Homo sapiens: one gene and its partner. The protein of the gene in region 2 interacts with the protein of the main gene of each other region in a biochemical or structural test. Each region holds a gene or a part of one and is shown on either strand. Other genes may lie near its edges.

Evidence for each region.
Region 1: the proteins of CTIF (region 2) and SLBP form a complex in vitro, tested with the Homo sapiens proteins (one study listed by BioGRID).

Annotation. Positions count from the first base shown.
Region 1 is NC_000004.12:1,690,025-1,705,596, forward strand, and holds the end of SLBP (histone RNA hairpin-binding protein), read right to left. Parts: intron 13,677-15,572; coding exon 13,572-13,676; intron 10,047-13,571; coding exon 9,987-10,046; intron 9,678-9,986; coding exon 9,540-9,677; intron 6,328-9,539; coding exon 6,178-6,327; intron 4,817-6,177; coding exon 4,750-4,816; intron 3,690-4,749; coding exon 3,573-3,689; 3' UTR 2,707-3,572; downstream 1-2,706. UniProt on the Homo sapiens protein: RNA-binding protein involved in the histone pre-mRNA processing.
Region 2 is NC_000018.10:48,537,540-48,553,111, forward strand, and holds the start of CTIF (CBP80/20-dependent translation initiation factor), read left to right. Parts: upstream 1-1,491; 5' UTR 1,492-1,773; intron 1,774-2,148; exon of another isoform or gene 2,149-2,292; intron 2,293-2,463; exon of another isoform or gene 2,464-2,798; intron 2,799-15,572. UniProt on the Homo sapiens protein: Specifically required for the pioneer round of mRNA translation mediated by the cap-binding complex (CBC), that takes place during or right after mRNA export via the nuclear pore complex (NPC).

The DNA of each region.
Region 1 (15,572 bases), on a different chromosome or scaffold from region 2:
CACTGCAACCTCCGCCTCCCAGGTTCAAGCGATTCTCCTGCCTCCGCTTCCTGAGTAGCTGGGACTACAGGCGCACACCACCATGCTCAGCTAATTTTTTGTATTTTTAGTAGAGACAGGGTTTCATCATCTTGGCCAGGCTGGTCTTGAACTCCTGACCTCAGGTGATCCACCTGTCTTGGCCTCCCAAAGTGCTGGGATTACAATGTAAGCCACTGCACCTGGCAAAAATTGTTTTTTTTTTTTTTTTTGAGATGGAGTTTTACTCTTGTTGTTCAGGCTGGAGTGCAATGGCACAATCTAGGCTCACCACAACCTCCGCCTCCCAGGTTCAAGCGATTCTCCTGCCTCAGCCTCTCAAGTAGCTGGGATTACAGGCACGCGCCACCACACCTGGCTAGTTTTGTATTTTAGTAGAGATGATGTTTCTCCGTGTTGGTCAGGGTGGTCTCAAACTCCCCACCTCAGGTGATCCGCCCACCTCAGCCTCCCAAAGTGCTGGGATTACAGGCATGAGCCACTGCGCCCGGCCCAAGAATTGACATCTATATTGAGTCTTCCAATCCATGAACAAGTTACATTTCTCCACTTACTAGATCTTTGTTTCATCAGGGTTGTGCCGTTTTCAGCATACAGGTCCCATACATGTGTTGTTAGATTTGAAACTAAGCATTCTAGTTTAAAAAGCCCAGAATCTCACCTGAATCCACTGCCTTGTGGAGGAGGCTCCTGACAGCTCCTGTGTTGAGCCTCTCTCCATGTAAAGACTGTCCCCAGCCCCCACCACACACATGCACACACACACACACACACACCCCCACCGCAATGAACAGCGGGGACAGACCTAGGACACCTGCTGCAAATGCTCCCAGGAGTCCCTGGCCCACAGCAAGTCTGAAATCCAGCTGGGCACACATCACCTGGCAGTCCCCTAAGCCAGCCTCAGTCCTCCAGGCTCCTGGCTCCATCTCTGAATTATCCTTCTTTTTCACAAAAGGCAGCCTGTGTTTGCAGCTGGAGAGTTTTATCTTCCTACTTCCCGCTGGTAGGAACCTGAGGGTTCAAGGCCTCTTGTATTGCCTGGCCCTTTCAGTCCAGCCTGGCAGCAGCTTCCGCCCATGTTAATTCTGTGACTCTTAATAGGGTTCAGTTCATTAGAAGCCACACCTGTGGGGCTTTTCAGACTAGCACCATCTTGGGCTCCTGCAGAGGAGCAAGAAGTCTTATTGAGGGAAAGAAAGGTTCTAACAGCTGGGCGCGGTGGCTTACACCTGTAATCCTAGCACCTTGGGAGGCCGAGGAGGGCAGATCGCCTGAGGTCAAGACCAGCGTGGCCAACATGGCGAAACCCCAACTCTACTAAAACTACAACAATTGGCCAGGTGTGGTGGTTCACGCCTGTAATCCCAGCTACTCAGGAGACAGGCAGGAGAATTGCTTGAGCCAAAGGAGGTGGAGGTTGCAGTGAGCTGAAGGCACACCACTGCACTCCAGTGAAAAGAGAGAGAAAGGTTCAACTTTCTATGGTTAACAGAGGATTTCATGCCACACCCTCAGCTTTAGCTTAGATCACCTTTCCAGCTGTCTTCTGGATGTCATTTTTGCTTGGAAGCCACTGAATTTTAGCCTAAGAGCACTGAGTGCTGCTCATCGCTAAGGACCTGCTCACAGTTTAGGGGAAGTAGCTCCTTAGTGACAAACCCAGGAGAGCTGCTCTCCGTCAGTCATGATGGAGGCCACAGCACCACTGAACTGTCACCATCTAACAAGGACCTTCACCTCTGCCTTCTCAAGACTGAGGCTTGCAGTCAGGCCCCCAGAACTCCTCCCACATTTTAGGACTCTTGAAGTCAATGCTGAGTGCTCCCACTTCGTGGCCTCTGCTTGCTGCCCTCCCCAGATGTCACCTTTTATCAGGCACCTCCTACCACCCTGAAAGAGCTGGGTCTCCTCACCAGGGCATGTGCTACAACCCCAGTGTCTACCACCCTCCACCTGACACTGCTTGAGGTCTCCATAAACAAGCTAAGTAAACAAGAGCTTCTGCCCTCTTCAAGCTCCTAGAACAAAGTTACCTGAGCCCATCCCTGGCTTAAGACCAGCCCAGCATCACTTGGAGGGATCTCCGGGACAGGTCGCTGTGGCGTGGACTAGTGGTCACGTCTGCAGGCAGCAACCACGGTCCAAGGGTGAAGGCAGTGGGAGCAGGGCACCCTCAGACTGATGATTATCCTGCTGCAGGGTCTCTCCCAAGAGACAGGGAAGGCTGTCATGCCAGTGCTGATGAATAAGCATCAGACCAAATGTGACATGTGACACCTATTAAAGAAGGCCCCCGGCCACACGCAGTGGCTCAAACCTGTAATCCCAGCACGTTGGGAGGCCGAGGCAGGCAGATCACTTGAGGTCGGGAGATCGAGACCAGCCTGACCAGCATGGAGAAATCCTGTCTCTACTAAAAATACAAAATTAGCTGCGTGTGGTGGCACATACCTGTAATTTCAGCTACTTGGGAGGCTGAGGCAGAAGAATCGCTTGAACCCGGGAGACAGAGGTTGTAGTGGGCCATGATTGCACCATTGCACTCCAGCCTGGGCAACAAGAGCGAAACTCTCAAAAAATAAAATTAAAAAAATAAAGAAGGCCCTTTACCCAGCGCCACTCACTGAGTGCCACTTGCTTCAGACACAAGAAAGGCAGACACAATTCTGACCCTCCAAACATGTCAGCTCTCACGGCAGCTGGCCCACCTGGCAACAGCCCCAGTCAGTGAAAGAGGGTTCTTTCCTTTTTATTTTTGCAATATCCCATACAAAAGCAATAGAAACGTAACAGTCTTAACAAGAAGTTTACAATTGAATATTTGAACAGAAAATCTGTACACATTATCATTTACAGCAATTTTACATGGTAAATTAACTGATTGTTTTAAAATGTTCTTTCTAAATCGCTCCACTCTGCTGCCCTAACTCTTGGAGTATTCTAAAGAGTCTAACTAGTGCTATTTACAAGTACCAAATTAAGACCATATAACTTACATAAAACTCATTAGTTTAATAGCTCAATTTAACAATGTCTGACTTCAGAATGCTGTTATGACATATTGATAAAAGGCCAAAAATTAAGTTTCCATAAAGATATTAAAGGTGTCTGAGAATACTTTGATGCCTATAAAAGTAGCTGACTCTCAATTGGTCCCATGGATTACATGGTTAAATCCAAAACAGTCCACCTGACAAGCAATAACTGAAGATGCCTGTGGAAAACCAGTTATGTAGACGTGTCAGCTTACCCTGGAGGACAACAGGGATTACGCAATTAAGCTCGCTGGAAGAGAGCTTCAAGTACTTTCTTGGACTTAGCTCCATTTACAATTTAAAACATGCAAAATATACTCACTATACATAAAATTAATGTTTCTTAAGAAAGTAAGGCAAAAATAATTCAGCATGAGCTAATGGACTGCTAACAGAGAAACCACCAGGTACAAGTGCACACACATGCTTGGTGCCTGGCCAGCCTTCCACCTAGTCGGGGAGGAGCTGTTTCTCTTCCTGGCCGCCAGGGGGCAGTTAGCTCATGGCTGAGAAGTCTCTCAAGGGTTCAGTTAAACAAGCTTCCAAATCAAACTCATCCTCCACTTGACTGTCCATGTGTCTCACCTTGGTGGGTGTGCCAGAGTACACATCCTGGAAAACAGAAGCATGGCTCGGTTGACATTCATCTCACCCTGAAAACAGGGGCCCCTTCCTACACCCCACTCCTTATGTGGTAAATCATGTGATGTAATGCACAGCAAGGTGTACACTTCACGTGCAACTGAGACAGATTTTAATAATAACACTGCAAAGAGAAACCACATGTACCATTTACAAGACACTGACGTTTAGATGTGCACACATCCCATTGTGCTGGGATTACAGGAAGGAGTCACTAGTCACTGTGCCTGGCCATGTACATAGTTTATAAGCACAGAAAGAATTGTAAAAGCCTAGACAAAACCACAAATAGTGGCTGTCTCAGGACAGGAGACAGTATTTAAACTGATACATTTAAAAACGGTTTTCTTTTCTCTTGAGACAGAGTCTCACTCTGTCACACAGGGTGGAGGGCAGTGGTACAATTTCGGCTCATTGCCACCTCTGCCTCCCGGGTTCAAGTGATTCTCCTGCCTCAGCCTCCTGAGTAGCTGGGATTACATGCCTGCATGACCACACCCAGCTAGTTTTTGTATTTTTAGTAGAGACTGGGTTTCACTATGTTGGGCAGGCTGGTCTTGAACTCCTGACTTCAGGTGATCTGCCTGCCTCAGCCTCCCAAAGTGCTGGGATCACAGGCGTGAGCCACCACGCGCAGCACATGGTTTTCTTTCTTTTTTTTTTTTTGAGACAGAGTCTTGCTCTGTTGCCCAGGCTGGAGTGCAATGGCGCCATCTCAGCTCACTGCAACCTCCACCTCCTGGGTTCAAGCTATTCTCCCACCTCAGCCTCCTGAGTAGCACGGACTACAGGCACCCACCATCATACCTGGCTATTATTTGTATTTTTGTAGAAACAGGGTTTCACCATGTTGGCCAGGCTAGTCTTGAATTCCTGACTTCAGGTGATCCGCCTGCCTTGGCCTCCCAAGGTGCTGGGATTACAGGCGTGAGCCACCGTGCCCAGTCCAAACTTCAGTTTATAAGGCAGCATGTGTTATTAACAATTCACCTGCAACCCCCAAGCTGAAAGACTTATCCAAAGTACTTACAAAGTCATCCTGAGAGCTGGTCTGGGGCTCGGAGCTGCTTTCTGCAGATTCAAGGTCTACAGGGTGTCTGTTAAACAAGATCCAACATGTGCGTCAGGCACTAACTTAACAAAGCCAGGAGACGGGGCGCTACAGACAAACCCCATCCATATGGTACAGCCACAACACTGACAGTGTGCCCGAGGCTCCCTGAGGGGTCAGCTTTCAGTGACTATTTGACAGACTTAATCCCAGCCCAATCAATCCAGCAAAGAGAAAGCGGATGGCAATGAGAAGCAACAAAAAGATCTGCTGGGCTCACCACACAAGCATCCTTGGAAACAGAAACACTCATAAGCCCAATTTTTGAGGGGGAGAAATGAGCACTGTGATGAACATACTATGCATTATCACTAATTTTTCCAAGTTTCTACTCAGAGAATGGGACAATGGTGTCACACTGGGGGAAAAAACCCAAATGACATCTGTCAGGACAAACTGGTAAAGCCACTTACAATCGTTTCAAACATGCCAGTCTCTAAAAAATTTCCCAGCACAGAGGAGAAACTCTAATTGTTTGTTTAAAGAATGTGTCTGAGGAAGCGAGAGGCTCAGGACCAGAGGGGAGCTGAGAAGAAACCCCACATAGAGGGAGGGAGGTACACGATCATTCTCTCTACCTTCCTGGTCAGCAGGTATTGCCATGATGCAGCAAAAGTTCAGGCCTGAGACATTTCAACTAGGCACAAGTTTAAAGGCCAACGGGGCTGGGAGCAGTGGCTCACCCCTGTAATCCCAGCACTTTGGGAGGCTGAGGCGGGTAGATCACAAGGTCAGGAATTACATGGTGAAACCCCGTCTCCACTAAAAATACAAAAAATAGCTGGGCGTGGTGGCGCGTGCCTGTAATCCCAGCTACTCAGGAGGCTGAGGCAGGAGAACCACCTGAACCCAGAAGGTGAAGGTTGCAGTGAGCCGGGATCACGCCACTGCACTCCAGCCTCGGTGACAGAGCATCTCCCAAAAAAAAAAAGCCAACAGAGAAAGAAAGCCTTCCTTCCTTAATTAAGAACTTTTATTTTCATGGTTGAGCCGAAATGACTCAAATACTTTTTAGGATATTTATATTTAAAAAACAAATTCCAGAGATTATTGTAATTTTTAGGGGAAAAACAACTACAACAACAAAAACAGCAAAACAACAAACAAAAACTGTATTCCCAGATTGACTTTGCTTGAAAAAATAAATTCAATCCAGGAAGCAAACTCTTCCTTCCAGCTGCCTCCCTCCCAGTACAGAAGAACTCAGCACCGAGCTGCAGCAGCTGCTCTGCTCCCCAACAGCTGCTGGGGGACTTGGCACCAGACCTCCTGTCCCAGTGGTGCGCAGCTGCTCCAGTCACTGGACCAATCAGAGAATCACAGGACAAGAATGCAATAAAGACATACATTTCTTGCAAATCACATCCTTCTTCCGCTGGAGGATCCCAAAAATGCAGAGCCACCTTCCAGAGTTTGATTTGCTGGTCCCATGAACGTCGACTATACTTCTTAAATTTATTAGGGGTCTTGGGATGAATGCCAGGTTGTCGAAGGTGTCTACAGGAGAAAGATTATTCTAGCACATGCCCACATGCCACTCACATTTCCACATTAGCCTGAAGATTAACCAAACTATGAGATTAGTATTATTTTAAATATTACAGATCACCAGGCATGGTGGCTCATGCCTGTAATCCTAGCATTTTGGGAGGTCATGCCAAGATCACTTAAGCTCAGGAATTTAAAAATGGCCTGGGCAACACAGTGAGACCTCGTCTCTATTTAAAAAAAACAACAAAACAGAACAAAAAAACAGCTAGGGGCTGGGAGCGGTGGCTCACACCTATAATCCTAGCATTTTGGGAGGCCAAGGTGGGTGGATCACCTGAGGTCAGCAGTTCGAGACCAGCTTGGCCAACATGGTGAAACCCCGTCTCTACTAAAAATGCAAAAATTAGCCGGGCGTGGTGGCCTGTGCCTGTAATCCTAGCTATTAGGGGGCTGAGGGAGGAGGATCGCCTGAACCCGGGAGGCAGAGCTTGCAGTGAGCCGAGATCGTGCCACTGCACTCCAGCATGGGCAACACAGCGAGACTTCACCTCCAAAAAAAAAAAAAACAAACGCTGCTGGGTGTGGCAAATCACTTGAACTCAAGAGCCTGAGATCAGGCTGGCCAACATGATGAAACCTCATCTCTACTAAAAATACCAAAAATTAGCCAGTCATGGTGGCTTATGCCTTGAGTCCCAGCTACTCCAGCGGCTGAGGCAGAAGAATTGCTTGAACCTGGGAGGCGATGGTTGCAATGAGCCTAGATCATGCCACTGCAACTCCAGTCTGGTCAACAGAGCAAGACTCCACCTTAAAAAAAAAAAAAAAAAAAAAAAAAAAAAGCCGGGCACAGTGGTTCACGCTGTAATCCCAGCACTTTGGGAGGCTGAGGCAGGCAGATCACCTGAGATCAGAAGTTCAAGACCAGCCTGGCCAACAGGGTGAAACCCTGTCTCCACTAAAAATACAAAAAACTAGCCAGGCGTGGTGGTAGACACCTGTAATCCCAGCTACTCGGGAGGCTGAGGCAGGAGAATCACTTGAACCCATGAGGCGGAGGTTGCAGTGAGCCAAAATCGTGCCACTGCACTCCAGCCTGGTGACAGAGGGAGACTCCGTCTCAAAAATAAATAAATAAATAAAAAATCAACTGAGATCCTACAAAATGAACAAATATGTTTAAAAAAATTAAAAAATTAAAAAGCACTATCCGGGCCGGGTGCGGTGGCTCACACCTGTAATCCCAGCACTTTGGGAGGCCGAGGCAGGCAGATCACCCAAAGTCAGGAGTTCGAGACCAGCCTGACCAACATGGAGAAACACCATCTGTACTAAAAATACAAAAAAATTAGCCCAGGCATGGTGGCGCATGCCTGTAATTCCAGCTACTTGGGAGGCTGAGGCAGGAGAATCGCTTGAACCTGGGAGGCGGAGGTTGCGGTGAGCCAAGATTGCACCATTGTACTCCAGCCTGGACTAGAGTGAAACTCGGTCTCAAAAAAATCACTATCCGCTGGGCACAGTGGCTCACGCTTGTAATCACAGTACTTTGGGAGGACTACTTGAGGCCAGGAGTTCAAGACCAGCCTGGGCGACATAGGGAGACTCCCATCTCTATAAAAATTTAAAAGTTTAGCCAGGTGTGGCGGCATGCACCGCTGGTCCCAGCTACTCAGGAGGTTGAGGTAGGAGGATTGCTTGAGGCCAGGAGTTAAGACTACAGTGAGCCATGATGGTTGGGCGTGGTGGCTCACCCCTGTAATCCCAGCACTGTGGGAGGCAGAGACAGACGGATCACGAGATCAGCAGTGCGAGACCAGCCTGGCCAATATGGTAAAACCCCATCTCTACTGAAAATACGAAAATTAACCAAGTGTGGTGGCAGGCGCCTGTGGAGGCTGAGGCAGGAGAATCGCTTGAACCCGAGAGGTGGAGTTGAAATTGCGCCACTGCACTCCAGCCTGGGCAACAGAGCAAGATTCCGTCTCAAAAAAATGAATACACAGTGAGACATGATATAACACTGCACTTCAGCCTAGGTAACAGCAAGACTCGGTCAGGAGGGAAAAAAAAAAGCACCATCACATTGAATCTTACTATTCCTTTGCCAGCTATGTTCCAAAAAAGTAAAAAAAAAAAAAAAAAATTGTTTTTTTTGAGATGGAGTCTTGCTCTGTGACCCAGGCTGGAGTGCAGTGGTGCAATCTCGGCTCACTGCAACCTCCTCCTCCCAGGTTCAAGTGATTCTCCTGCCTCAGCCTCCCGAGTAGCTGGGACTACAAATGTGTGCCACCACGCCCAGCAAATTTCTTGTATTTTTAGTAGAGACGGGGTTCCACCGTGTTAGCCAGGGTGGTCTCGATCTCCTGACCTCATGATCCGCACTCCTCGGCCTCCCAAAGTGCTGGGATTACAGGCATGAGCCACTGCACTCAGCCAAAAGTAAAATTTTTTTTTTTAAGAGACAAAGTCTCATACTCTGCAGCCCAGGCTGGAGTGCAGTGGTGTGATTAATGGTTCACTGTAACGTTGAATTCCTGGGCTGAAGCAGTTCTCCCACCTGTCTCCCAAGTAGCTGGGACTACAGGTGCAAACCACCACACCTGGCTAATTTTTAAATTTTTTGTAGAGATGAGGTCTCCTTATATTGCCCAGGCTAGTCTCCTGGCCTCAAGCAGTCCTCTCGGCCTCCCAAAGTGCTGGAATTACAAGCATGAGCCATTGCACCTGGCCCAGAAATGTAAATTTCAACCCCAATCCTGCCAAAAAGTTCAGGAAAACACTAAAGCTTTCTTTATATCCTTCTGTGTCTGTGTGTTTGAGGGACCAGGATAGGCAAGAACATGCTGCTTAAAGACAATAGGGCAATGCCAATTTTTTTTTCTCCAATTAGAATTTTACAATATTTAACTTGAACTTCATTTTTCCCCATCATGTATTTTAATAAGCTTACATCTATGATTGCTGACTCCTAAGAAATAAAATGTTATCTAACATTCAAAATTATATGAAAATGATTTTTAAAATCTTCATGTCTTTAGTTTTCCAGTTGCCAATCCATTCTTTATTTACGTCATAAGCCCCAGTAAGTCCCTATTAAATAGCTCTTAGCAGGTGTGAACTATCCCCAGCATCATTTGTACTACCCAATCTAAGCAACTCTTTAGAAACGCAATGCCACACAGCTTGTTCAAGACATGCCACTGAAACAAGACTACCTTGGGACTTCTTTAATATAACGATCGTAGGCAATTGTGTTCTTCCCATAGTTGATCTGCTTCTGTCTCCTCATTAGGACACTTTCATCTGTCTCAAAGTCAGCCGGCACAGTAGACATAGACTCCTTTGAATCAGAACTGAAAAAACAACAGATTAACAGAATAAGCCCTGCAATTAAGATCACCATGTATGTAAGGTAAGCCAAGAAAATGTCAAAACACAATAATGGAAGATTCACTCCAGATTCCCAACCATATGAATCCTAAATAGTCCGGAGACTGCATGTATGGGAATTTAGTACACAACAGATACAGTATTTCAAATTAGTGAAAAAGGTATTAATAAATGCTACTGCGACAGTCAGCATTTCTGACAGTCACAATTTTTTTTTTTTAACAAATTACAGGTCTATCAAATTAGAAAAGAAACATTTACACAGCCTTTACCTTCCTGATGATGATTTTCTCTCTCTTCCAAAGTCATTGATGAGGAGTTTCCTTTTATATCTGAGGGCAAAATAAATATTGCTGTTTTTAAAAAAGATATAAAAATAAAGCAGCCAGGTCTGAGGAAGCTCCACCCTGATGCCCGCAGGCACACCATCCTATGCAATCCAGAAGCTCCGTGGGCCAAAAGAAATCTTTGTCAGGTTCAGTTTAAGTAGTGAGATCCACACAACAAAAATTTACATTCCCTAAAACTTGGCAGCCTTAAAAAAAGAAAAACAAAACATAAATTGAAATAAATTATTTTAAAAACACCAAACTTACTAATGGGACTCATATGCCTACTGGGCACTGCATACCTTCTCCAATCCTGGAGACCAAACGTGCCCCCTTTTCTCTTGTTCCTCATGAACTTCCTGAGGCATCTGCTTTCTATTGCAGTCATTACCAGAACGCAGTTTTGCAAAAAAAAAAGTATGACATCTCCAAAAGGAGTCTAGCGCAATCTGACGTTGAAACCACGAGCTACCTTGAGCTCCAAGTTCATGTGAGTATCTTTTTTTTTTTGAGATGGGGTCTCACTCTGTCACCCAGGCTAGAGTACAGTAGCACGATCATGGCTTACCACAGCCTCATATTCCTGGGCTGAAGCAATCATCTCACCTCAGCCTCCCAAGCAGCTAGGACTCCAGGCAAGTGCCGCCACAACCATCTCCAAAAAAATTTTTTTCTTTTTTTGGAGACATGGAGGTCTGTGTTGCCCAGGCTGCTCTTGAACTCCTGAGCTCAAGCAATCCTCCCGCCTCAGCCTCTCAAAAGTACTGAGATCAGGAGTGAGCCACCACCCCTGGCCTGTCATGCAGGTATCTAAATTATGTCATGTATTACTGTGCCTCCTCTCAAAATCTAAAATCCACCCAAGTTTGCTGAGGTGTTCAGTGCAGTTTGGACGCCAGAAGGTAATGAAGTAATTTATCTCCCGTGCATCTAGAGTAGCACTGGCTATATAACACCATCTTTGTACGATTCAGAGATTAGTCCTGCAAATCATTTGCTGCAGGGCCTCATTCTCTCCAGTACCACAGATGAGAAAGACTGGTTTTCAGGTATGATGAAAATCCATTTTCTTTTTTTTCTTTTTTTTTTTTTTTTTGAGACGGAGTTCCCTCTTGTTGCCCAGACTGGAGTGCAATGGCGAGATCTCGGCTCAGTGCAACCTCCGCCTCCCGGGTCCAAGCGATTCTCCTGCCTCAGCCTCCTGAGTAGCTGAGATTACAGGTTGCTGCCACCACGCCTGGCTAATTTTTAGTATTTTTAGTAGAGACGGGGTTTCTCCATGTTCGTCAGGCTGGTCTCGAACTCCTGATCTCAGGTGATCCGCCCGCCTTGGCCTCCCAAAGTACTGCGATTACAGGTGTGAGCCACCATGCCATGCAGAAAATCCATTTTCATACTCTTATATTGCTAGTTTGTAGTCTGTTAGTCTCCTTAAAGCATAGTAAGCTGACATTTCATACCGCTCTTACTGTCAGGAAGTAAGCCGGCCTGTCAGTAATGGCTCACTAAAGGGCCAGCAGTTTAAATTACACAGGTTGCACTAAAAGCTGCAGCTTTGGCCAGGCAAGGTGGATCACGCCTATAATCCCAACACTTTGGGAGGCCGAGGCGGGCAAATCACCTGAGGTCAGGAGTTCAAGACCAGCCTGGCCAATATGGTGAAACCTAGCCTCTACTAAAAATACAAAAATTAGCCGGACGTGGTGGCACACAGCTATAATCCCAGCTACTCGAGAGGCTGAGGCAGGAGAATCGCTTGAACCTAGGAAGCGGAAGTTGCAGTGAGCTGAGATTGCATCATTACACTCCAGCCTGGGAAACAGAGCAAGACTCCATCTCAAAAAAATAAGTAAGTAAATAAAAGCCGTAGCTTTCCATCACAAAGGGTATAATCAACAGAGCAGCCCAAACAGTGCTGTTTTCCAAAACAGGACAATTTTCAGGCACAGACCCATGAGATATCTGAAGAACAAATAGGGTCCACTCACAGGACAATCTGGACAGGTGGAATACGCATGAATAAGAGCTGCAGATAACCCCTGGCAAGGGGTGACTTGAGGGAGCAACTAGGCTATCGGTATGCAAGAACTGTTCTAAGACTTGTGCATGCAACACAAACTATACAAGTCAAGTCAAACATTCTAATTTTATAATTGAGGAAGTCAAGACCTATATAAATGCAATAATTCACTAAAAACACTGGTACTCTCATCTGTGAACTCCTAGTTCATTTCTTCTACCAAGGCATACATCCACCCACACATTTTGATACCAGAAGAAATGACAAATAACTCCCCCAAATGTTCAATAACCAATTCCCACATATTCCCGTCCCTTTTCAAAGGAGGCTGATATAAATACCATCACTGGCTGCCAAAATGAAAACAGGTAGTCTAGGTATCGTTCCGCGGCTGACACGCAAGACACATTTTTCTTGAGACCCTGTTTATCAGCCACTTGTTGGCTAAAATTATCTTGTAAAATACTTCAACCAATTATGAGCCACATTTTAACTGGGTTTGAATAAACCCAGTCCTTGCAACTGGGTTTGAGTTAGACAACTCATCAAAAGAGAAAGGATCAACACACTGATAATCAAGGGAGATTAAACATGGTTAAGGATGCATTAGGTAATGAGTCAACGAAGACGAAGTAGCTTAGTTTGCAAGAACTTGGATACACACAACAATCTTGTGTGCAACTGCAAGAGGTTCACAGAATCCAAGTTTGAGACCTTTCCTTGTATGTTGGCATTTCTGAGCTGTTTGTTGCCTAAGCCAAGTGTCAATGTATTCCTTCATCTGGAGAGAGCACTCCATCTACTGTGCTGGGTTGTGTGAGCACCGCACACAGAAGGTCGGTGGTAACAAATGACTATAGTAAGTTCCTGATAGTTAGGCCGGGCACAGTGACTCATGCCTGTAATCCCAGCACTTTGGGAGGCCGAGGTGGGCGGATCAGGAGTTCAAGACCAGCCTGACAAACATAGTGAAACCCCATCTCTACAAAAAATACAAAAATTAGCCAGGCGTGGTGGCCTGTGCCTGTAATCTCAGCTACTCAGGAGGCTGAGGCAAGAGAATCGCTTGAACCCGGGAGGCAGAGGTTGCAGTGAGCCGAGATCTTGTCACTGTACTCCAGCCCGGGCAACAGAGCGAGACTGTCTCAAAAAAAAAAAAAAAAAAAGAAAGTTAGTTCTGATAGTCCTCCAGCCTGCAATCCAGCAGTAACACCATTGTGCACCTACTTCCACTCTTGGAAGGATTACCACCAAGAGGACAGTGGTCTTCAAGCTTGAAAGAGTGGACCCGCCTGGAGGGCTTTTCACAGGATGGCCAGGCCCCACCCCATTCGCAGGCCCAGGGAAGGGTCTGAGAATCTGTATTTCTAACAAGTTCCCAGGAAATGTTGATGCCTTTGGTCTGGAGCCCAGACCTTTGAAAACCACTGTTCTAAGACAAATATCAAATTTAATGTGTTACTGAAAACGCCACAGATTAACACTTCAAGGTGGTCCAAAATGTGTACCTTGCCATTTCTTTGTTAACTCTGGTCCTCATTTCATCTTCTTCAACTGCACTTGCCCAGTCAGAGCATCTGGAACGGGGTTTAGGGCCTTCAGGAGTGGTAAAGCTGCAATAAAAGGAAAATGCTACTGAACCATGACACATACTTTGTTTTCTTTCAAACTGTATGTCAAGAAATATTCAAAGGCTGGTGGGACACAGTGGCTTGTGCCTGTAATACCAGCACTTTGGAAACTGAGGTAGGAGGATCACTTGAACCCAGGAGTTCAAGACCAGCATGGGCAAGATAGTGAGACCTCATCTCTGTCCCCCACCCAAAAAAATAAAAGCATTATATCAGTGAACTATGTGTATCAAACCATACTAAACTGGAGTTTAGCAGGACAAAAGCAAACTAGATGTAGAACATAACCTATCAGCTGCATCTGTCTATCCAGGGCTGTCTTACTAGAGCAGAAGTCATGGAGCTCCTTGGCAGTGTGCCCACTGTGTTTGGGGGTCTAATAAAACCAACTAGATTTTAGACTTCAAACTAAATTATGATTCCTTTTGGGTGTCCACACTTCAGTAGTCCAGGGCTATCATATGGCTGAAATCAACTTATTTCGTTCATCTCTGGTATGTGTTTATAAAGTCATTAAGATGGGAGATTTGCTTCAAATTTTTGCAGTGTGTGTGGCAGTCAGAAAAACCCATATCTAGTTTTCAGCTTCAGTTCTGGCATTTCTATGGGTTAACCTTATCTCATTGATCCAACATCCGGCCTGATGCTGGAGCTTATGAAGTTGACTCTAAGAAGTTCAGAGAGTGTAGAGTTTCCCATCTTGTATTTAATTTGTCTCTATGCCATTAGTCCCAGCTTGAAGTCATTACCAATGTCAATGTTGACAGGATTGTGACAATATTGCCTTTCATAAAACCGACCACCAAAGAATTCCATTATTCTAACAAAGCCCGAGTTTCACAGATCGCGGGCACATCTAGACAGATGTGTGCATGCTTGACGGTGCAGAGCAACTACTCACTTCCAGCAACCTCGTGCTTCCCCTGGCTGGCCATACAGAGGGATTCGCTGTCATACTGAGAAGGCTCTGCAAGGTAAGTCTCTAATTGAGGCTATCTCAGGTGGGTGTTTCCGCTGTGTAGTCCCAAGCCTGTATCCATATAATAAAAGTGCAGGTCTGGCATTCCTCCAGGTTATCTGGCCAGTGTAGACTCCTCCATCTGAATATGAACCTCCAGGGTAAGAATTTTCCAGACATGTCTATACTAAACAGTATGATCCTGTACTTGCCAAATGTCTGCCTCCTCCTGTTCTGCACTGACCCATTCTTTTTTTTTTTTCTTTTTGAGACGGAGTCTCACTCTTGTTGCCAAGACTGCAGTGCAATGGCATGATCTCAGCTCACTGCAACCTCTGCCTCCCAGGTTCAAGCGATTCTCCTGCCTCAGCCTCCCGAGTAGCTGAAATTACAGGCATGAGCCACCACGTCCAGCTAATTTTGTATTTTTAATACAGGCTGAGTTTCTCCATGTTGGCCAGGCTGGTCTCGAACTCCTGACCTCAGGTGATCCACCTGCCTCGGCCTCCCAAAGTACTGGGATTATAGCTGTGAGCCACCGTACCCAGACTGCACTGACCCATCCTAATTCCTGTTAAGTGTGAGAAGAATTGTCTTCTGTTCTCTCTCCATTCTCATTCATGATGAGATTACTGATCCATTAACCAGTTGAGAAATGACTGATGCTGAAGAAATGGTATTCTATTGGCAAGGCTTATTAACAAACTTCTGATAATGAAGCAGGCTACCAAAAACTTATCCAGCCCACCCCAGGAGTGTTTGGATTTGATCATGGATGTAGCACACACCAAAATCACTAAGACTTTAGACTACTTGTTTTATTTTGTCAGATTATCATGGGACTGTCTTTAGTTCTGAATTATCTGTAAGTCTGAGTACTTCATAGAATTATAAAGCAGGTACAGCTGACACCTTCTCAC
Region 2 (15,572 bases):
CTTTCGAATTAGCTCTCTTCTCTCATCTGAAGCCTTTGTACCCTTTAACCTTAATCAGGTGCTTATCCTTTCCTCTCTCTTTGTTAAAAATCTTAGAAATTCTTGCCGGGCACGGTGGCTCAAGCCTGTAATTACAGCACTTTAGGAAGCTCAGGTGGTGGATCACGAGGTCAGGAGATGGAGACCATCCTGGCTAACACAGTGAAACCCCATCTCTACTAAAAATACAAAAAAAAAAAAAAAAAAAAAAAAATTGGCCAGGTGTGGTGGCGGGCGCCTGAAGTCCCAGCTACTTGGGAGGCTGAGGCAGGAGAATGGCATGAACCAGGGAGGCAGAGCTTGCAGTGAGCCAAGATCACGCCACTGCACTCCAGCCAGGGCAACAAAGAGAGACTCAGTCTCCAAAAAAAAAAAAAAAGAAAAAAAAACTTAGAAATTCTTTGCTCAAGTATCACTTCCTCCAGGAAGTCTTCCTGACCCTCTCCCAGACCCCACCCACCCTCCATCCAGTTGGCTGCTCCAGGTTGTGTGGTGGGGGGAATTTCACAGCACTTTGTGTTAAGCGCTGACTTATCCCTTGTATAATACTTTCATTGACTGTAGTCCCTAATACTGGACTGAGCTCCTTGAGCGCAGAGACTGTGAGTCTTACCTGTTTTGGCATTCCTAGACACACCTGGTCTGTGGAAAGTGCTCACTAAATGTGAATATAAACTAATGAATAAATGGGTTTCTACAGCAGTTTATACTGCATCACACAGTTCCTCTAATGAATTTCTAGCCCCCTTCCCTGTTGGGGCATACAGTATTTTATTCAGTATTTCTCCTGAAGGCCTCTCTGTGCCAAGCTCAGTTTTAACCAAAACATTGGTGATCTGGTTAAGTCATTACTGAATTATCCACTACGTTGAATTCTCCCAACCACCCCGTCCCAGCCCTTAGCTTGGCCGAAGGAAAATTAATTGGTTGCAAAGTGCGTATCTAATTACAACAGCCAGCCCCCGACACAGAGATGCTCAAATGTTAATTATAACATATGCATCTCAATAACCGACGGTGGCATTTAGTGCAGCATTAATCACGCCACTTGGGCCCCCCAGTGCATACACAAAGCTCCTTTTCATCTGCCATTAGCACAGACTTTGCACTTTCGGCACGGACGTTCTCATCCTTAAAGCCTTTCGGACTCTAAAACCAACGTTTCCCTGTAAGCCTGGACTGCGCCTAAGCCCCCAGTTCTCCCACCGCAGAGGCCCCCACCCAGGGCTGCGCCAGCGCCGTGGGGTCGCTGGGCGGCGGGTTTTGGCGTCGCTAGACTGGGCTGTCTTGGCAGCTAAGGCGACATCCCGAGCGTCCTGGGGCCACCCTGCTCTCCAGGGCCCGCCATCCTGGAAAAGAAAGGCGAACTACATTACCCAGCAGGCCTCCAGCCGCCCTCTTTCCTTTCAAGTCTTTGCACGTGGCCGGAGGGGAGGGCGGGGCCTGAACGTCACTCTCCTACATTCTCTTTCCCTGTGTCAGATCAGGGATCATTTTTTTTCCTTCCTCTACTCCCTCCCCCCTACCCGCCCCTCCCTCCCTGTTTCCCTTCCCTCCCTCCCTCCCCTCTCTGCTGGGTCTGTGCGCTGGGGCGCCCGATCCCCTCCGCAGCTGGGACGCTCCGAACTCGAGGCAGGAGTCGGCTCTCCGGAGCCTCGTCCCTCCCTTCCCCTTCCCTGCCCCCTTCCCCCACCCCCGACTCGGGCTTGGCGCGGCGGCCAGAGGAACCCCGAGGTGAGCATCTCCTCGCCCGTCCTCCTCTTATAGTCATCTCAGCTTGCTGATCGATTCGGGGACCCGGGAGGAGGGCTGCGTGACGTGGGCGTGCTTATAGATAAATCCGGGAAAACCGCCCCAAACAATCAGCCCCCTTCCCCCCATCCCTGCTCCTGGGCCAGCGGGGTGTCCGCACCCATCTACCATCCCCTCCTCCCCCTCGGTGGGGAACTGCACTCCACAGTGTCGCCCCCTCCCTGGGTTTGTCCCATTCCCTGCCGGGTTCCCCGCCCCGCGGGGTGTCGTGGCCCTGGAGCTCCGGCGCCAAGGGGGGCTCTTGGGGGACGCACGGCTGGAGCCCGGCTCGCTTTGGAGCTGCGCGGTGTAGCCGCTGTCATGTGCCGGGTTCCGACCTGGGAGGAGGAAAAGAGCGAGCGCGATTCCTCTCCCTTTTGTTTTGAAGCCCGCATTTGCTGCATCGAGCAGTTGGTTTAGTATCAGCCAAACTTGCAGCTGTTCAGACCGCGCTCCGCCGAGGTAGGGAGCCCGTCTCGGGGTGGCGTTTGGGGGCCGGGGGCTGCGGCACTCGGGGCTGCGGGAGGGACCCCGAGAGTGTGTCGCCACGCCGCCCCTCCCTTCCCCGGTGACTGATTGTGTCTGTGGCAGCGGGCGTGTGTGAGTGTGCGCGCCCGTCCCCGCGGGCTCGGGGATGTCTGTGGATGGCTGTCGTCTAGACAGGGCGCAGCCCCCTCCCTGCGTCCCCGGTGAGCCCGCGGGCCGCGGGGGGAGCGGGGGATGGGAGCAGAGGAAGAAACCAAATCGGTGGACCCGTTGCGGTCTCCCCTTTGGTTATTCCCAACGGTTGTGGTTCTGTTGGCTTTTTTTATTATTCCTGTCGCTGCGGTGCAATCGGGCCTGGGGAATAGATACGCCCGGCGGAGAGGGGTTCACTTGACAGGCTCTGAAAAGCCACCTCTGGGTGGCGAGTGACCCGAGAGGCCGTGGGGTGGGCTCCGGCTCGGGTTCATCAGGACGACGAGCAGGTAACTGTCCCGGGCGCCGGTCATGGGGGAGGGCGGGCGGGGGGGCGATGGCTTGGGCTGCGGCGAAGGTCTGGGGCCTCGGAGGGCCGCGTGCCGGTGCCTGGATGTGGCCGGAGGGGGCGTCCGGGACACCGCGCGCCTGAGCCGAGTGTTTCTCTATTGATGGTAAAAGACAATCGGGAGGGGGGTGGTCCGAGCCCGTTATCTGGGCGGCGTTGGCTCTGTTTGGTTCCGCGGAGTTTTCAGGGTTGGGGCTGGGGGGTGTGAGCACCGCGGGGTGTGCGGCGTGTAGAGGGGAGGGCTGACTGGCGGCGCCGCGTGCGTCTCCACCCCGAGGAGTGAGGCGTCGCCTCCCCCGCCCGGCTGTTTGTGTGTACACACGGCTCCGGTGTGTGTGGGGGGCGGGGACCGCAGACCGCGGCGTAGTGGGGACAAGCGTGGGCCCCGATCCTCCGCGCGACCTGTCCCGCCAGCCCCCTCCTTGTCTAAGTCGGGGTCGTGTGTCCCCGCGCGCGCGCGCCCGAGTTACTTGGAGAGGGGACCGTGCGGCTGTGGGCCGGGGAAGACCGTAGGGTCGCGTGTGCTGGTCTTCGGTGCAGGAGTCCCAGGTCCGCTGTGCGGCCGGAGTCACACAGCCCCTCCCTCCGCGTCCGCGACGCCCCGTGACCCGGCAGACTGGGGGTCCACCCGGCGGCGCGGGGGGTTGGTTTGGCTGCGCCGCCCCCAGTCCACGCTGGGGTGACCCCGCACCGAGGCGTTCTATGGGTGTGCGTGCCCGCGCTCGCCGCCGCTGCCTTCGCAGACCGGGGAGAGAGTCAGCGACTGCCAACCGCAGCCCCGGCTCTTCAGTCTGGGGACAGTGGGAGCCCAAGCCCAGCGCGCCCCAGCCCGGCCCAGGCCGCCGCCCGCCCGGCGCTGTGTCTCTGCGGCCCGAGGATTATCCCCCAGTCCAGGGGCCCGCGCGACCAAGGAGGAAGCCGCTGGAGCCGCCGGCTCGGCCGCGGCTAGAGCCTCCGTAGGGCGAAAGTGACACAGCGCGAGAGAGCGCCGCCGCTGCTGGAGCCAGGGCCGAGAGGAAGGAGCCGCCCAGAGCGCAGGGAGGGGCCGCCGGCTGTCCGTTCCCAGTTCCTCCTGCCCAGGGCCCGATCTGGGCTGAAAACCTCAGGAATCCAGGCTCCTAGCAGGCTCGGGCTGCGCGAGGAGATGGCCTGGCTTTCAAGAAAACCCAATTATACGTGAACAGAATGCACCGAACAGACGCTAGAGGATGGCCAGGACACGCTCAGGTTGTCTGGGGAAACTCCTGAGTGTTTGACACAGGATTCGATTTACACACAGATCACCTCATCTGTGTCAAGTATCTGTCCTGGATAATGGATGCTCAGAGGCAGCAATTTTGTAACACATTCTAGGGCACAGTGTCATCAGTGATTAACAGCTTGCTAGAATAATAATATGTTTGTATGACCTTACAGGGCAGGTTTTCTTCCCCCAGAACCTCCCCCCTCCCCCGCCAGATATCATAGCATTTATTAAGAGGGTCCTGTGAGGTAGGAGAGTATTAGCCCCATTTTACGGATGAACACACTGAGGCTCAAAAATGTGGCTTGCATAAGGCCTCTGGGTGGGGGAAGGGCCACATTCCCCCTTTTCTCAGCTTATGGCATTTAATTAATAGTGGCCACTTTTTTTCTGAGTATGGATTCTTGACACCTCAGGAAATACTGAAGCTAAAAAATAGAGTATATTATGCTGACACATATTCTTTCTCAAAACACTCTTGATTTGTTAACCATTCCTAATGAGAGCAGCCACTAAAGAACGGAAGTCTGCATTGCTGTTATTACCACGCATTTAATAATTTGCTGTTGGTGAATGGATAGCAGCTGTGATACATCCAGTTTCTACCAGAATCATATGTGCATATAATAAATGTATATGGTATGCCTGTTCATGTAACACTTACCTGTGTTTGTATGGCTGTGTTCATTGAGTCTTTATTGAATTCAAGGAGCAAAGAACTTATACATGCCTGCATGGATTTCTCAGAATTCATGCATGTGAAGGCTGTCAGACAGCCTGGAGGGTTATTAAGTTTAGCCAACTAATCAATTAATTAACCATTCACTCAATATGTACTGGGCACCTACATGTTTGTGTATCTAGAAGTGCATACAAAGAAAACTTAACAAATGTTAATTAAGTCCAGCAAATGTTTATGAAGCACCAGCCTCACTTAGGCCAGATACTCTGCTTCTCTACAAAGATAGTAGAGCAGAGATAGTTAAGTTGCAATGCAATAACACAGCCTACAGGAGGGAACAAATCATAAATATTTTAGAGCAGTCACCCTGGAACTTAGTTTCACATATGTTGGTTTCAAGGGGCCCAAGATGCCAGTTCTTATTCTAGAGCAAATGCAGAAGGAAGCGATGGGGAAAAAACACCTTGATAGCCTTGTTACCCTGAACTTCAGGCTGTTTGCAACCTCCCGGGAGGGCCCAGAGGTATGTTCTTCTGTGGAAGTTAGGCAGCTGATGGAAATTACCCTGAAGCCAACCAACAGGTTTCTGGCGACACGGAGCTAAGGAGATGTTCTCCGTGGTCCCGCCCCAGCTCAGATGTGCTGTGACTCAGGGACAGGCTGTGGCTTTGGTCAAGGTCTCACTCAGGCCCTGCCTGGGTGTAGGAGTTTCTGCCTTACAGGTCTGTGTAGGTGTGTTAATACAAGTCTGCTTTTTATCTAATCCCAAACTCACCGTCTGGTCCCAGATATTGTCCTCTAATTTCATTTCTGTTTTGGGCTCCATTGCCCTTGTTTTAAGGTTATGTTGTTTGCAGCTCAGGTCATGAAGGAGGAGGCAGGAGATGGGTGGTTAGGTTGGAGAGAGAATCCTGAGCCCAGATAGAGAACAGGAGGTACAAACATGCAGGCAAATTGCAGTTTCTGAGAATTCTCCACACGTGGTGGCATTTCTGCATAACTTACCTGATAACACAGCCCCATTTGATGTCCTTGGCTTGGCAGGGGGAGGGGGCGTCTACCTCTGGGCCTCACTGCTGACTCACCGGCACCCTGAGCTCAGCTGCTTCCTTTCAGGTTTGGGTTTTCTTTTGCCCCTGCCTCCCGCTGTGTGCGGTTTAATTTAGAACCTTGCTATAATGGTGGCCTTCTCCCTGTGTTAGCACCGTGCTCTCAGCATGCCTCTGACTTTGGAATTAAGGCCAGAGCTGTGGTTCACAACGGGGTGAGAACAGACACATCCTTGGATCTCCGGCACCCAGAGCTGGGGAGGACTTTGAAGATGATCTGATCTTCACGTGAAGACCTGAAGCCTAGGGAAGTGGAATGACTTGCCTAAGGTCATGGTGAGCCCTTAGCAGAGTGGGTAAAAAATCCTGGAATTTGAGATTTCATCCAATCTTCTTTCTATGTACCGTAATGCTTTCTGGAAAAAAGTTAGGTTCTTCCCAAAGAGTGAGAACTCTTTATCTTCTTCTCTCCTGTCTTCTGGTTCTGGGAAGGGCTCTGAAATTCATTTGACTTCTCTTTCCTTCACAACTGGCCCTTCCTGCCTTATCTTCATCTTTGGCATTCATGAGCAAATGAAGGTCTGTATTTGGGAAATATAGGGTGTCTTGGTGTCCTACAGTGCTCTTAAGCTTGGTCTGTGGCTTTCTGGCCCTGAGGCAGGGTCCTCAGGAACCTTTTGGAAGTGTTTGCAAAGCTGGGATGCGTGTGTACTTTTCTAGGAAGAGAATCTACAGATTTCATTTGATTCTCAACTGACTCAAGTAAGGACAAAACTACTGGTAGGGAGAAGGACAGAAAGGTTGGATAGTGGTTGGTTGACACTGGGGCTACTTTAATACGCTGCACTTGATTTGGCTTTACAGTTTGCAAACTATTTCACACAAATTATCCCATCTGCCTTTTATAATAGGTGGTTATCGTTATCAGCCTGTGAGGCAGTTGTTGTTATACCCATTTTGCAGAGCAGGAAGCTGAGCCTTCATGGTTAGTGGCATGCCCAAGTCACGAGTAAGCAGTAGAGCAGGGATATGAACCCTGACTTCAGACTTCAGGTCCAGTGCTCAGGGCTGAGGTGGCTTGCTGTCTGACATCATTATGATGAACAGAAAGCCTTGAACTTCCCAGAGCTTCTTAATGCCTACTGTTCACTCATATTCGGCCACAGAGCCAGACCCAAATGCTCACTTACCCAAGGGGTAGGGGAGATAAAGTATGGGAGGCAGTTACCATAGCAACGATCTGTAGAGTGGAGCCAGTTTGGGATGGTTTCATGGATGAGGTGAATTTGGGAGTAGGCCTGGGTAATGGTGGAGGAGGTTTTAGGCTGGGGCAATGGCCCAAAAATGGTTAGGGGGCAACTAGGTGCTTGGGGTGGGTAGAACAGACCTAAGAGGTTTACTTGATCATCCTGCAGTCGGTGCGAGCTTCACAGTAGTTGTCGGGCTGCTTTTCTATGCCTGTCTTTGTGCTAGGCCCTGGGGCTATGACAGTGAACAGGTACAGCCCCCTGCCTTCAAGCAGCCAGCTTTCTAGTGGGAGAGACAGATGCATAAACAGTTCCATTCAACGTCATGTGGGAAGTCTAGGTAGAGAGAAGCCCAAGGCCCTTACAGCGGCACAGACAAGGGGCAGCCACCTGCTCCGGCCTCAGATGTCAGGGAGGGCTTCCTAAAGGAGACGGCTCAGGAGCTGAATCTTAATGGATGAAAAGGAACTGGCCAGGAAAGGAGATGGGAGACGGGCATTCAGGGAGAAGGCATGGCGTGCGCAGGGTGTGGAGGCATGAGGCTGCCTGGGTGTAGGAAGGAACCGCAAGCAGTGAGGTCAAATGCAAAGGCGGAGATGCAGACAGCGCTCAGAGTGGAGGAGCTTTGTAAGCCTGGTTTCAGACCTTGGCTTTTAGCCTGCAGGTAAGGCATAGAGGAAGGACTTTAATCAGAGAGGTGTACAGCCTTGCTTGGATCGGAAGGGAACAGGACTGGGAGCCAGGCGGCCATGGGACTGGTGAGGCAGTAACAGGCTCTCCACGGCATCCAGGTCATAGGGGGTGAGACCTGGAACAAGGGCCATGCATCTAAGGATGGACCAAAGGTCATACATTAAAATTAGTTGGGAGTAAAGTCCGCAGTGATTACTTAGACTTGGGGGATAAGGGAATCATCTCAGTGGCTCCCAGGTTTGTGGCCTCACTGACTAGATGGACGGCAGCTCTTAACTCAGGTGCGAACTTCTGGTTGCTGGAGCAGGGTCTGCTGGGGTTGGGGTGGGAGGGAAGATCATGGTGAGTTCAGTGCTCCGGTATTGAATTGGAATTGCTGGTAGGATAGTGGGGTGGTGCTGCCCTACAGACAATGCACTGTGCAAGCTAGAGGCTGCAGAAGTGTGTGCCCAAGCTGAGCCCTGGGAGCGGGGAAGCATTGGCCACTGAGCGTAACCACGGTGAGGGCTGCTGTAGACAATGAGAGCAGACCTCTTCCTCCCATTGTCAGATAATCCTTTGTCATGCCGGCCGCTGTCGTCAGGGAAGCCAGGCGGGGATGCTGTGTCATGCTGGAGGCCCAGCTGGCAGAATCCAGCGACAGCCAAGAGCGTGTTTCAGCTGGAAGCATTAGAGTGAGTTAGGGGAGAGGCATTTCGCTTTTTAACATCCACAGTGAGCAGAGCCCTGTCCCAGCCCCTTGGAGTGTACAGAGTGGGGAAGCCCTGGAACCTGCTTCCAGGAGCAGGTAGTTTTGTTGGGGAGAGAAGATATGAACATATGAAGCCACTAAAAAGCTGTAACAACCCCAGGGAAGAGTGGAATGCAACTTAAATAGAGTGTTGCAGATCCCTCTCTTCCTGCCATACTTCATTTTTATAGAGCTGATGTGTTTTAGGCAAACGTCCAGTCTTTGCATGTTTGAATTCTCAGAACCGACAATAGTGCCTGGCACATTGTAAGTGTGTGTTCAGTCTATGTTTGTGGATCTGCAGGGATGTACCCAGAGTTAGTCGTCTGGGGTGGGAGGTCAGTCAGGGAAGGTTTCCATAAGCACGTCCAAAAGGGGCATCCCAAGACTGATTTAGAATACTTTTAGTACCACAGTGGAGTAAAAATCTTGAAAACCTTCCAATGACAGAGCACCTAGAAAGGCTGTGTAAGCTGTAGCTAGCGTCCTTTCAAAGAAGAGCTAAGCTCATGGAATGTAAGGGAAATCCCCAGGGATCTCAGGCAGTGTGGACGGTGAGCTCCAGCTGAGGCTCGTCTAGGCCTGGGGGTTGGGAGAGGTGTTGAGGGGTGCTTCCTGGCCTCAAAGCCCAAGGGTTTGAGTCGTGACTGCATCTCCTCCGAGACTAGAGATGATACCAGGAATCAAGAGCCCTGCCTAAAACAGGACCTGGTAAAAGTTTGCATGCTGGGAGAAAGGATGGACTAGACAGCAGCCCGTCCGCATGGGGGATGGAAAGTGGGTGTGCTGCTTTTTGTCTTGACCTGGATGTGAGGTGGAGAAAAATCTTCCCTAGAAATGTGAGACCTCAGGCCTGTTAGAGCTTTGAATGTCCACTACACATGTGGTCCAGGAGGCCCTCAAGAGAGAAATTAGCATGTAAAGACTTGGGGGCCAGTGTCTTCCTGACTGTGAGCTCTAGGGCATCAGGGGCCTGGGGAGAGTCTGGGGCTCTTTGCCCTTTGCTGACTTAAATCTCCACCTTGGGAGATGCTTTGCGATCAGGGCAGGGTAAGTGAGGGAGGAGAGAGAAGAGAAAGGGCAGAGGTGCCCCTCGGTAGGAACCTTTTAAAAGGGCCTTGGAGACAGCTGCACAACTCGGGGAGGCATGTGCAGGATGGCAGAGAAGGACAGTTCCATCCAAGCCTTCATCTCTTAGGAAAAAACTTCAGATGAGCCCCGTCTAGGAAGCCCAGAACATTCTCCCTACTGCATACTCAGGTCAGGTTCTTACAGATAAGGTTTCTTTCCAGGGTCCCCTTAAGGGTGCCCTGTGCAGATTGCAGTTGCTACTGGTCCTCTAGACTGGGCACTACATTGTCTTCCCATGCTCAGAGTCTTTAGTTCCTACAGTTTCAAACTCAGGAGACATCTTAGAGGTCATCTGGTCAACCCTCCACCTGGTGTGGGAATCCTGACTGCAGCAGCGCTTGGTTCCAATGTGCTTGCTGCTTGTGGCCGGGAGTTTATTGCCTTGGAGGCAGCGCCTTCCCTTATGTTATAGCTGGAAAGGCCTTGTACTGAGCTCTGGCCACCCTCCTCGCTGGCCATTTTCACCCATGGCCCCTGCAGCTGTTGTGAGAGATGGTTTCTAGACCTTTCACCATCCTGCTTGCTTCTGCTGGAAGGGCCTCCATTTGTCAAGCTGAGATTCTGTGAGAATCCAGCCAACTTCTGTCCTAACTTACTTCACACAGAGGCAGCTTTTGAAGATAGATGTGAGGGTAGCTGAGCCGGCTGCATAGGCGCAGTCTGTGATGGGGGAGTTCTGAGAAGCTTTGGCTCGGTGCTTTTCGGATGATCATGAGAGAGGCAGCAGCACCTGCTGCAAGTTCCTTCCTCCGACGCCCAGAATACATTTCAGCTTATAAGTAAGTAACTTGGGAATCCCATGCAGGGAGCTGTGTGGAATTTATTGAGTGCAGGGAGTTTATTGAGTGCCTGTTAAATGCCAGGCACAATGCTGGGCGCTCTCTGTGTGCCTCGCTAAATGAAAGTAACCTCTCTGAGGGAGACAGAGAGGCAGAGATATGGTAATGCCTAACTGTAGTTATGACAATTGAGCCCTGAAGGGATTCAGAAAGAATGTGTGTGGTTCCATCCAGAGTGGGTGGAGCTGACACATTCCCCATGCTGTTCCCTTATAGGGCCTTCCCCTGGGGTAGGCAGTATCATGATCTCACCAGTAGCTGGGAACACACAGGCCTGTCCCACACTCTTGGGGCATTTGCTGAGATACTTACACGTTTGAACCATGAGATCAAGAAAGTGACCTGCTAGAGAATTCACATCTTGGCATGTCACCAAACAGGCTGGTGTTTACAAGCAAAGTATTTTTTACAGCATGCGGTTTATCTGTCTCCGGTATCTACCTACAGTACCCTGGGCACTCTCAGGAAGCAAAATGTCTTTCTGTTCCTCCATCTCCTTGATGCTTGGCATCTGTGTGGGTCACATATTCAGCAGATTGGGTAATAAAGAGCATGCGTTGCCTTTGCAGCAAGGTTGCATCAGATGGCTGGACGTGCCTGGATGTGCTCTGCCACTGGCATGAAGGACCCTGTGCAGACAAGGCCAATAGTGAAGGTCAGGGATTCCGAGAAAGCACCCAGTTTCTCCTCTTCTCCCTCTAAAAATGGTTTCTTCTGCCCACATTCTATTGATTTGCCTTAATCCTTTTAGCTGTTAACCTTTGCCTCAGTTTAGTGGACACACATGGTATCTGCAGTGGGTCTGGCTCTAGGAGTGAGGTGAGATGAATTGAGGTAAGCCTGGCAGGGTCCCTGCTGCCCATCTGCCCATCTTGCTGGGGAAGACAGAATAGCCTTGCGCTAGTGTAAGGTGGTAAGTATGGGGTCAGGAGAATGAAAAGGGTGCCAAGGCAGCCAGAAGTCGGATGACTGTGAATTTTTTTTTTTTCCAATGGATAATCATGCTGGGACACAGATATAAACTGAGGTTGTCCTGGGTAGGTGAGGGCTTATGGACACATGGGCCAGGGAGGGCGTATGCATGTGGGTCATACCTGACACTATTATCAGACACTGTTATCAGTCATTTATACTGCAGGGTGCACATAGGGGTGATGGGGGAGGTGCTCGTGCACAAGAGGAATTGGCAGCTGTTTCCTTCCTTTGCTTAGAGGACGTAGGGGAAAGCATTATCTGTGGGGACTGAACTCAGAATTCAGATGGGGCTCAGTTTACAGCCACAGGGTTCTATCTTATATCTCACCATGATCTCAGTTTGGGGATTGGGGTGGAAGTATGGACAGATGAAAACCATCGGGCTTGTGGGATGTTATTGGCTACAGGTAAAAGAACAGTGTACTAACGATGGCTTTAAAAACAAGGTGTTTCAACTCAGCCAGAAGTCTAAAGGTAGGAGCTCTAGGGTTGGTTCATTCAGGGAGTCAGCGATCATTTCAAGGACTCTGTCTAACCTAGGCTGCCATCTTCAGCACATTGGCCTTTGTTCTCAGGCCAGTCCCCTTATGGTCATAGCATGGCTGCCACTGCTCCGGGCATCATGTTCTCACATAACTGCGTCCAAAGGCAGGCAGGAAGGTTAGATTCTCCTTGTCTGTCTTAATTTGTCAGGAAGGGAAGCCTTTCCCAGAATTCCCCTGCTGAAGATTCTATCAAGGCTCCTTGAAGAGAAACGGGTCAGTACCCATGCCTCCGCTCCAGTGGAGGAGGAGAAAGCAAGTCCCTGGTGCTTTCGCCTCATCTAGAGCAAGAGGCAAGCTGTGTTTGCAAGGAAGTGGGGAAGGGAGCAATGGTTGGCTAAGCAAAGAGGAACATTTACTTCACCAAGTTTCAAGATGTTTTTATTTATTGGGGGGGAGTTAGTGAATTAGCTTTACTTTTTTTTATATCTCAATATTGTTGAGGTTTTTGTTTGTTTGTTTGTTTTTTTAAAATCTCACCCCCTAGTTCTGGCAACCACCAACCTGGTTTATATCACTATAGGTTTGCCATTTCTGGTAATTATTACTTCTTAAGCCACAGGTAATGCTGGTGCATAGGATCCCAGGTGTTCCATGGATGCCTTTTTTGTGGTCCCAGGACATGGGTTCTGTGGTCTGTTCTCCCAGCAGCTCCTCCACTTTCCCGACACTGGGGCCAGGTGGAGAACCCCAGTAGGCAGAATTGTCCAGAGGGAGGGAGCATATGTCACTGGTGGCCTAGGCAGCAGGACTGGAAAGGCCTGAGGGCCTGAGGCTCCAGTGGGTTGGTAGAGGATGGCAGTCACCTTTGCAGGCAGCTGTGGGTTGGGGAGAGGAATTGGTGCTCAGCTGTGGCCTGCACATTCTGCAGAATGAGTTCTGTTGTCCCTGCTGATTGGGAAGCCTGGCCCCAGGGAATGCAGGGTGTGGGAAGATGGTGGTGGATGCCACCTTCCCCTCCCCAAACCACTATCCCCTCTATACATACACATGCAAACAGCCCAGGCCGTGGGGCTGACCATGCAAGCTAAGAGACAAATCTGTCCCCTCTGGGCTCCTCTCCACTCTGCTCAGGGTGTCACTGTGTCCTCCTCCCCCTCTTCCCACAGCACAGTCTGTGGGTTGCTAGAGCACTTAGCACTTCCCATCACTCCCTGCCTCCTCATCATTCCTTGGATACTTGCCTATCTGTCCCCTGGGATCATGAGCACCTTGCTACTGTCCTGGGAGTCATCAGGGCATTTCCTATAGGGCTAGGGTGGTGCCGGCCACAGGGTCCATGCTTCATGGAAAAAAAAGTATTTTTAAGGCAAGATACATATTTCTAGAAAGGGACTTGTTCATTTGGTTATCTGTCCAGATTCCAAACCAGTTCCGTGTGGCACTGCACAGTGCCCTGGACGAGAACTTACGGATCTCTACATGTTTTCCTCCCTAAGAGGAAGAAAGGTAATCAACTATCCTGTTCTGGGCTGAATTGTGTCCTCTCAAAATTCATATGCTGAAGTCCTAACTCCAGCGCCTCAGAACTGGATTGGTGGCCAGGCCTTTAAAGAGGTAATTAAGGTAAAATGAGATCATGAGAGTGGGCCCTAATCTAGTATGACTGGTGTCCTTAAAAGAAGAAGAGGACACAGATAAGACACAGATGGGGTCAACAGTGTGAGGATGCAACGAGAAGGCAGCCATCTGCAAGTCAAGACGGAGGCCTTGGAAGAAGCCAGCCCTGCCAACACCTTGATCTTGGACTTCCAGTCTCCAGAATAAATACATTTCTGCTGATGAAGCCACCCAGTCTATGGTGGCCTGCTATGGCAGCCCTAGCAAATGAATATGGAAGGATTCTCCCCTGCAGCTTGTGGAGGGAGTGTGGCCCTGCTCACACCTTGGTTTTGGACTTCTAGCCCCCAGAATTATGAGATCATACATTTCTGTTGCTTTCAGCCACCTGATTTGTGGTCCTCTGTTATGGCAGCCATGGATACTAATACACATGCATTGTGTGTTATGCTTGTGTTTAGGACTTCACCCCCTAAGTGTATTTCATCTTTCAGCTCTGAGTGTAGTTGTTATTCTTCTCTTTTGCAGATACACCTGAAAAGTTAGCATTCCTCCTGAGGTCACACAGGGAAGCCAGGCTAGAAACCCAGGCCTGTGTGGACTCTGGCCTGCAAGCTGTTGCATTTGGGCAGTGGGGAGATGTCTGTAAACGCAGGGATTGAACAGGTGGTCTTTCTCCTGAAACCTGGGTGATCCAATAATAACTTTCTTTTTCTTTTTTTTTTTTGGAGACGGAGTCTTACTCTGTCACCCAGGCTGGAGTGTAGTGGCGCGATGTCGGCTCACTGCAAGCTCCGCCTCCTGGGTTCACGCCATTCTCCTGCCTCAGCCTCCCGAGTAGCTGGGACTACAGGCGCCCGCCACCACGCCCAGCTAATTATTTTTTTTGTATTTTTAGTAGAGACGGGGTTTCACTGTGTCAGCCAGGATGGTCTCTATCTCCTGACCTCGTGATCCGCCCGCCTAGGCCTCCCAAAGTGCTGGGATTACAGGCGTGAGCCACCGTGCCTGGCCTAATAATAACTTTCAAAGCCTAACAGTTGCTAAGTATTGTGGTGTCATAGTAAGCACTTTGCATGTGCTGTCTTCATTAGCCATTACAGCTTCTGTTTCATAGATGAGAAAATGAGGGCACTTCTTCCAACGGGGACATTTAAGCAAGAAAAGCCAGTGACTTGGCCAAAGTTGCATACCAGGCTTGCCAGTGAGAAGACAAACTGAGGACGGGTTCTCTGAACTGTGCCCTCTTGGCTCTCTAGAAAGAACTGTGTGGAAATTTCTGGATTCCTGTGTCTTAGTCCATTTGGGCTGCTATAGCAAAATACCATAGACTGAGTAGCTTATGAACAGGAGAAACTTATTTCTTGGGCTAGGAAGTTCAAGATCAAGGTGCCAGCAGATTCAGTGTCTGGTGAAGGCTCAATTTTTCATAGATTGCACCGTCTCACTGCTTCTTTTCATGATGGAATGGGTGAGGACGTTCTCTGGGGTGTCCTTTATGAGGGCACTAACCTCATTCATGAGGCTCTGCCCTCATGACCTAATTGCCTCCTGAAGGCCCCACCTCCTAATACCATCGAGTCAGTGGTTAGATTTCTAACTTGTGAATTTTGGGGGGATACATTCAGACAGTAGCGGAGGTTGAGTGTTTTACCCCAGGCCACACAGCTAAGAAGTGGCATAACCAGTTTTGCTCAAGCTTTGCCTGTCACACACAGGGATTGGCAGGTTCCCCTGTAGTCCCCTGATGTTCTGAAAAGGTCACTGGTCTTAGATTGGCCACCTGTGATCTGGCTGCTCTCAGGGAAGTCACTTCACATCTGGGTGCTTTGTCCTCGGTGACCTCAGGGCTTGGACGATATAATACTAAAGTCTCTGATCCTCTCATTCTGAGGTTCCCAGTGCCCATCCTTCTATAATACAGGGATTAGGAGGGAGAATCCCTGAGATGTTTTTGACATTTGCCTACACCTGAGGGAACAGTTGCACATCTTCCTGATACGGCCAGTTGGAAGTGTGGTTTG